2 separate regions of the Homo sapiens genome follow, and region 2 is linked to region 1. The links come from fine-mapping of genetic effects on gene expression. A gene starts in region 1. The other region holds a variant in brackets. All regions are shown on one strand. Distances are from middle to middle. Region 1 holds the start of MNDA (myeloid cell nuclear differentiation antigen). Region 2 has its middle 47 kb from the start of PYHIN1.

Region 1 (4,405 bases):
TTTATGGTAAATACATGAAATGGAATATTATTCTACCCTAGGAAGAAAGAATATTCTGACACATGATACAATACAACATGAATGAACTTTGAGAACATGAAATGAAAAAAGCCAGTCACAAAAAGCACACGCTTACTGTATGATTAAACATATATGAAGAGTTAGAGTTTTTAAATTTATGGGGAAAGAAGGTAGAATGATGTTTGCCAAGCTCTGGAGGAAAGGGGAATGGTGAAATTGTTGGTTAACGGTTAGAGTTTTAGTTTTGCAAGATGCAAAGGCGTTCTGGAGGTTGGTTGCACAACAATATGAATGTATTTAATACTACTGAACTGTACACTTGAAGCTGATTAAGATGACACATTTTATGTTACATGTTTCTTAACACAATTAAAAGAAAACAATTATTATATTCAAAGCTTTCAGAAGCTTGGCAGTGAAAATATCCATACCCACAGCTCTTTGTGAAGAACTACTCATTATGAAAAGAAATAAATCTAAGAAATGTTGGAGGCCAAAAGGGAAGAAAGATCAAGCAAATACTTTAATTAGTGTTTTTACTATCTTAAAAATAAGTAAAGCCAGAGTCAAATAAAAGAAAACAGGAACTATATGAACATACTCTTAACAGGTGAAGTTGTATGTTTGGGGGACCAGAAGATGTGAGAGTTTGCTAAGGGGCTTGTCTTTAAGGAGAATATAGATTTTTTAAAAATAAGAAACTTGACAAGAAAGGAGAAGAAGAAAGCACAGAATAAGTGCTATAAATTGAAACAAAGTAAGATGGCAAAACCAAGTTAAAATATATACCTTTATAGAATTTGCATATCTGGACTAAACTCATCAACTAGGAGGAAAAATTTTCAATTTGGATTAAAAATAAATCCAGTCATATGTTGTTGACAAAGTACAAATAAAGCATAAGTTCACTTAAGTTTGAGAAAGAGCTGGAAAAGTTATATTCTTCAAACTCTAACTTAAAGAAAGACTTTTTAGGAAAAATAGTGTAGCTTAAAATAGGCTTAAGTCAATAAGTATCAGTACATAGTTTCACTACATAATGGTAAAGTATGCAACTTGGAAAAAGATATAATAATTTAAATTATATTATAAATATAATCTGTTATTACTTTATAAAGTAGCATATAGAAGTTTTTTCTTCTCTCTAAACACACACATAACATATATACTTAGATATACATATTCTATGTAAAAATATATGGTAGAAATCAAAAGAACTACAATGAGAAATTAACAAAATCACTATTAGAGTTGGAGATTTCACCACATCTCTCAGTTACTGAAAGAACAAGGTAAAAAATAGCTTAGATTTAGATTTAGATTTTTCAAACATAATTAACAAGCTTACTTAAGAAACTTTATCTTACTTAAATAGAATTTGGAATCCAACGTTTATAAACTCTTCTCAAGTACTCATGGAGTAATTAGAAAACATTCATATGTACAAAGCCATAAAAAAGTCAAAATGTATCCCAAAGTAGGAAATATATAATTGATTCTCCCTGTCTTTTCATTATACCTTGCCACAAAAAATGTTATCTATGACTGAGTAAAGCATAGACCATTTGAAAAAGAGAATTATTTCTTCTTACACTTGTTGTAAAATGAAGCATAAAATGAAACTGATTCATGAAAATGTAAAGATTATTTTTGAGTAAATGCTTGTAAAATTGAGAAATTAATGTGTGCACATGTCTATGCTTTTTAAAATAGAGATAAAATCATATAATAGAGATTTATATCCTGGTTTATTTTTTACTAAATATTACTTCATAATAATTTTCTTATCTGACTGTCTTGTCTTTTAACTTAGGCCCAAACCCAGTCACCAAGTCATCCTCCAGCCAAGAAAACCAAGTATCTCCTCTAAATATCAATTTATGCCAAAAGACACCCAAGAATTAATTTTTAAAACCTGCTGTAGACAAAATACATTTTTTTGGTTCATACCCCAATTGTGGTAGAATAAAAGATATCCATTTGCTACCTAGACAGTTAAAGCATTCAGTTCTCAGTTTTCTGAATATGATTGATAACAACACTTCTGGTCTCAGGCAATTATTCTCTACTGAGATGGTGTGGTTACCAACTAGATACCTAGATCTTTCTCTAAAGAACTTCCCAGAAATCTCACCTTAATGGATGCTTCTTCCACAATAGTCTTCAGAAATCCTGGAGTCACTGTCTTGTTTAGGACAGAATCACTGTCCGTAAAGCTTTGGAGAGATTAAACTGCAGACTATTTTAATCTTGTAAAGGGCTGAGAAATGAAAGCTAACAAGGAAAAATGGCACTTGTTAGAGCCACTCTCAATCTTGATTGTAGATGGCCTTCTTACACTGTCCTAATTCCTAACTAGAAAGAAGTTATGTAATCATGAAACAATTTTGAAGCCACGCCTATCAGCCTTTGTAGCTTTCTATTTCAGATGTCAGAGAAAGTGGTCAGTTCCTCTTTGTAGTAAGTAATCTCAGTCACAAGGAGAAATGACAGTAAATGGTGCCTCTTCTTCGCTTTTTTGACTTACAAATACTTGCTGAAAGGAGTTTCAAACTCAGAACTTTCTTATAAAGCTAACTTACATATAGGTCATTAGAAACCGGTAGCCGCTTGAATAAGGATCTTAATATAAATTGGGAAAGGCAAAACACCAAAGTTTCTCCCTCCTTTCCTGTTCACAGAGTGGCAGGAGCAGGAGATCTTGGTAGAGATGTCTATTGCTACCAGAACTTGACTTCATCTCTTGGATAGGGGTGGGTCTACTGTGAAATTGTTTTTGTTTAAATAGTACCTACATATTCACCCAGTTATTAATAACTGATACACCTGGAGCTTGACAGAGGCAGAAAGTCATTATGAATATGTAAATCCTTATTCAAATAATTTGAAAGAGTTTCATACTAGTTGCTCTCTTGAGTATAATAACTGAGCTGCCTTACCTTGATTATTAAATTCATGATTACTCATGCTTTTTGCATTATTTATGGATAGTTGGTTCATATCATGACTGAAACCTTGAACATTCTGGAACAGCACTGAAACTCTGGAATGATAGGGGGCCTGATAAACCCTTTGTACTGCAATTTTTTTTTCCTGTGAAGAACAGTGGGTGCACTACAAAGTATCATAACTCTGAATTGTCAAATGAATGGTATCAGTTAGCAGACAGTGCTGTGGTTACCAACTAGCTGATCTGTAAGCAAAATGTGGTCATGACTGGAAAAGGATCCCAAAACAGCTAATAGGGGAAAATGATCCAAGGCCATCTACAGAGAAGAATAAAGCTGATTGTCTTAATCCAAACCAGCAGCATAGAGAGAGTTAAAGTTTGGATTTGGAAACTGTCTAAACCCCACTAAAGCAGGGTAAATCAGAAAAAACCAAGAGGATCTAGAATGACAGCCACTAACACATGTGGGTGTTCATTGTTTCAGTTTCTCTCTTATGCTGATGCTTCGAGCAGGTCTTAAGGTAAAGGGTAAAGAGGAACACAAGGAAACCTTATCAGGTGCCCCACTTCAGTGTTTGGGAACCAAAAGAGCTCACGACAGGAGTTACCATGTTTCAGGACAGCTTTCTGCCCTGATATGGTTTGGCTCTGTGTTCCCACCCAAATCCCATCTTGTAGCTCCCATAATTCCCACGTGTTGTGGAAGGGACCTGGTGGAAGATGAATGAATTATGGGGGCAGATCTTTCCCATGCTGTTCTCATGATAGTAAATGGGTCTCATGAGATCTGATCGTTTTAAAATAGTTTTTAAAAAATGGGAGTTGCCCTGAGCAAGCTCTCTCTTTGCCTGCTGCCATCTACGTAAGATGTGACTTGCTCCTCCTTGCCTTCCACCATGATTGTGAGGCTTCCCCAGCCATGTGGAACATTAAGTCCAATAAGATTCTTTCTTTTGTAAAATGCCCAGTCTTGGGTATGTCTTTATCAACAGCATGAAAACAGACTAATAAAGTAAATTGGTACCAGGAGTAGGGCATTGCTGAAAAGATACCAGAAAATGTGGAAGCAACTTTAAAACTGGGTAACAGGTAGCAGGTAACAGTTTGGAAGGCTCAGAAGAAGACAAGAAAATGTGGGAATGTTTGGAACTTCCTAGAGACTTGTTGAATGGCTTTGACAAAAATGCTGATAGTGACAGAAACAATAAGATCCAGGCTGTGGTGGTCTCAGATGGAGATGAGGGACTTGTTGGGAACTGGAGCAAAGGTGACTCTTGTTATGTTTTGGCAAGGAGACTGGCAGCATTTTGCCCCTGACCTAGAGATGTGTGTCTTAGAGTTTGAGAGAGATGATTTAGGGTATCTGATGGAAGAAATTTCTAAGCAGGAAAGCATTCAAGATGTGACTTGAGTGCTGTTAAAGGCATTCAGTTT
Region 2 (4,405 bases), 53 kb before region 1:
CGTTGCTGGTGAGGAACTGCTATCCTTTGGAGGAGGAGAGGCACTCTGCTTTTTAGAGTTTCCAGTTTTTCTGTTCTGTTTTTTCCCCATCTTTGTGGTTTTATCTACTTTTGGTCTTTGATGATGGTGATGTACAGATGGGTTTTTGGTGTGGATGTCCTTTCTGTTTATTAGTTTTCCTTCTAACAGACAGGACCCTCAGCTGCAGGTCTGTTGGAATACCCTGCCTTGTGAGGTGTCAGTGTGCCCCTGCTGGGGGTGCCTCCCAGTTAGGCTGCTCAGGGGTCAGGTGTCAGGGAACCACTTGAGGAGGCAGTCTGCCTGTTCTCAGATCTCCAGCTGGGTGCTGGGAGAACCACTGCTCTCTTCAAAGCTGTCAGACAGGGACATTTAAGTCTGCAGAGGTTACTGCTGTCTTTTTGTCTGTGCCCTGCCCCCAGAGGTGGAGCCTACAGAGGCAGGCAGGCCTCCTTGAGCTGTGGTGGGCTCCACCCAGTTGGAGCTTCCCAGCTGCTTTGTTTACCTAAGCAAGCCTGGGCAATGGCGGGTGCCCCTCCCCCAGCCTCACTGCCACCTTGCAGTTTGATCTCAGACTGCTGTGCTCACAATCAGCGAGACTCCGTGGGCGTAGGACCCTCCGAGCCAGGTGCGGGATATAATCTCATGGTGCGCCATTTTTTAAACCGGTCGGAAAAGCACAGTATTTGGGTGGGAGTGACCCGATTTTCCAGGTGCGTCCGTCACCCCTTTCTTTGACTCGGAAAGGGAACTCCCTGACCCCTTGTGCTTCCCAAGTGAGGCAATGCCTTGCCCTGCTTCGGCTTGCACACGGAGCACACACCCACTGACCTGCGCCCACTGTCTGGCACTCCCTAGTGAGATGAACCCGGTATCTCAGATGGAAATGCAGAAATCACCCGTCTTCTGCGTCGCTCATGCTGGGAGCTGTAGACCCGATCTGTTCCTATTCGGCCATCTTGGCTCCTCCTCCTCGGCTACATTATTCTTTTACTCCAATCTCAATGGTCATTGCTTCTCTCTCAGCAATCTCCTTTGACGTATTACCATCTTTTGAGTCTGCTTGCTCCCAGCTGTGGTCTGGAGTCTGAATAGAGATATGCTCTCATGCCCATTATGGGTACATTTAAACAGAGCAGGAGTTAAACAAAGGCAGTAAGGCAGTACCACAGGTGACAGGGAATAGCTTATTTACTCAGTGCAAAACATTCAGGGAAGATTTTAATTAGGCAGAATGTTGGCAGGAGGATATTAGGTAAGGTTTTTCACAGTACAACTATGGTTGTTTCAATTGAAATGAAAGGATTATTGAATTAGGGAATCTGAGATGTGGAACGATTTACGTGCATATATATGTCTGTGTGCCTGATTATGTCACTATTTCCATTTTAATCATTTGTACTTAAATTTAACTTTGGTTAGTGTTATCAAGGCTCCTATTGTGAACCTTTGTGCTTGTCGTTAGTGTGCTTTTGGAGAATGAGATATTTAGTATGATGTTATGGAGAGCCAGCCATGTTTTCTTCTGTGAATCAGCAATTGCCTTTCACTAAAGTATAGCAATTTTTGGTCTAAGATGAAGTTATTCCAAGACTTCCTTGTTTATTTGAGTCTGACATGAGCTGTGTTGACCCTCTTCCTTGTTAAACTTATTTTTGATGCATATTATACATATTTCCACTTTATCTTTGACCTCTCTGTGTACATAGTTTCATCCTCATTTGTAGCATCCTTTACTTGTAGTCACCCCCAAATATATATCCAACTTTTCTATGGCTCCACCTATGGCAGTTTGATCTTCTCATTCACCTTGCTTAAGAATCTGCATTCTAAATCTACACAGCCTGGGCTGGAATGTCAGTTCCACCACTAACTGGTTGTTTCAATTGGTGTGTATTGCTTACATTTTCTGAGCATCGGTATCTTTATCTATGATATGGGAATAATTATTATAGCTTCATTATTGTCTCACTTCCCCAAACATAGTGAGTGCTCAGTTTTCTATTAGTATAAATGTAGAATTATACAATTATTTTAGATAATATCATCTAAACCCATAATTTTAACATGTATCTCTAAATGTACAAATGCATAACTCGCCAGTACAAAATTACTTTTTTTGTTCCAGATCTGTTTATACAGATCTATATATCTTCAGATTGATAGAGAGATATTTCTTAGATATCCAACAGGTAGCTCAAAGTCAACTTGTCCAAACAACATGTTTTCACTTCCTAGACTGTGCTGTTCTCTGCTTTCTT[G/T]ATGTTAGTGAACAGTAGCACCATTTATACAGTTGCCTGGATAATATTCTTGAATCATCTTTGAATGCTCCTTAAATCTTTTATCTTTCTCAACATCATCACTTAATTAGTCACACAATCATGAGGATATAGCTTCAAAAAATATTTTACTCCATTCATCACAGCCCTGTTTGTCTTTCTCCTTCTTAAATAGAAATCTGAAGAAACCTTTCGTGGTGTCCTGGTAAACTAGCTGCCCAATTTTAGAAAATATCTATTTGTAGCCTTTGCATATTTTGCTGGCCTAAATATTTCCACTATGCTAGTTTCAAACTTCCAAAGATTTTACAAACAGTTCATAAAATCCCCAAATACTTAGCAATAAGTGTTCTGGTGAGAGCTGACTTGGGCACATCATTGCTTCTAATTGATATCTCTGCTCTAACCTAATGCCTCTCTAATGCATACTTCTAGAATTGTTACCATAATACCTTTTTTTTTTTTTTTTGCTAAAGTGTCAATGTGATCAGACATTCTTCTGCATAAAATCTTTAGGTTTTATCTGTTTTTCACAATGAATTTTCTGTTTCTTTATTTCTGACAAACAGCTATACTCTACCACCTGCCCCCGCCCCCAATTTTTATTCTGTGCTGCATCTTTCCATAGTTTCTTCATAGAAACTCTTTATAGAATTTTAGTTGTACAGAACTCACAGTGCAGTTTCACACTTTAGAGCATTTGCGTGTGTCATTTTCATTGCTTAGATCCCCTTCCAATATCTTTGCCGTGATAGGAAAAGTAGTGCTTACCATAGATTAATTTCTCATGATGTACTAGGCAGTGAGATATGTTATATAAATTTTACATATATGTAAACTTATATGCATAAATACGCATTGTCTCACTTAATATTTTAACCATGCTGATGAAGTGGAGACTTCCATTATTTTAGAGGATCAGTGAAACTATTTCCCCAATATCAATCAACTAATGAGTGTTGAATTCAGGATTCAAATCAGATTTGTCTTATTCATAACCCTTTCTCTTGAACACTATATGAAATTACTTCCCTGTCATCCTAATTTCTTTAAATACTTTATTACTTAGCACAAGTATTATAATCCTTTTGAATATTCCTTTGAAGCTTATAAGAATACTATTTCCTTAATATCATTAAAAACTCTTCTACGTAGAAATGAGTGCAAGGACATTGTTTGGATTTTCCTCCCACCTGCTGGACTGTCTGAGTAACAGGATAGGAATCTAGTGTTCCTGAAGCCTAAACAAAATCATTTACTTCTTTGGCAAACTAATGTTCCTCTATCCAGTTCCCACCTTGATAAAAATGTGAATTCTACAAATCAATTTTAGCTTGTAGTCAATTGTTCTTAGATGAAAGCAGAATAATCAAAACTTATCTCCTTCCTCACACTTGATATTGTGCCATTTTTCATTCCTGACTACATCCATGGTTCCTGTATTGTAGTATCTTACACACAGAAGCTATTATTCATCAATTGTATAATTCCATTTATATGCGAGATCTCTTATAGAGTGTGTAGGAAAATCTGGAGGTAAATTTAAGGGGCTAACTTAGAAGATATGTATGTAGGGTTACAAAGCAGTCAATCATGTGAAATGTTAGTTGAATTCATAGCAGTTTGTAATTTTTTTGAGGACTGTTAGGGAGGAATTGAATGTGTCATGCTGTCACCTTGAATTTGGACATGGACATATCAGTAAAACTGTGCCTTTTAATTATTATTATTATTATTACTTTGTAAATGAGAGGATTCGATTACCTTATCTTCTAAGTATCATGGAATTCAAAATTTTTATTCAATACTATCTTCATAAATAAATAAGTAAATAAGACAGAAGGGAGACAGCACAAATGTTTAGATCATATGCATAGCTGCTGAAAGTATTTGCACTTAGGAGAAAGTTAGCCAATCCATTTATTATACTTATTGCACGTCACAACTAGAATTCAACCTTGGTAGTACAATTCATTATACAAAGTAAATATATCAAAATCCAAAGTAAAATTATGAGCTCCAGTTGGGATAGAGTACAAAGAGATGAAATTATTGGCACGTAACCTAATTATTTAGACCCTGTATTGTATAGAAATATGCTAGTTGTC

Evidence for each region. PIP is the estimated chance that this variant, and not a neighbour inherited with it, causes the effect.
Region 2: its variant is the best candidate, but not a certain one, in a credible set for the expression of MNDA in blood mononuclear cells (TOPMed, PIP 0.87).

What each region holds. Positions count from the first base shown.
Region 1 is chr1:158,829,308-158,833,712 of GRCh38, reverse strand. It overlaps MNDA (myeloid cell nuclear differentiation antigen), which reads right to left and starts at 2,362. Exons shown (of 7, transcript NM_002432.3): 1 at 2,156-2,362. It also overlaps a transcript of OR6N1 not described here.
Region 2 is chr1:158,882,690-158,887,094 of GRCh38, reverse strand. No RefSeq gene overlaps it. Among named protein-coding and RNA genes, the nearest start is that of PYHIN1, 47 kb to the left of the region's middle. RefSeq lists an enhancer at 169-668. The variant G/T (reference allele first, on the strand shown) is at 2,280.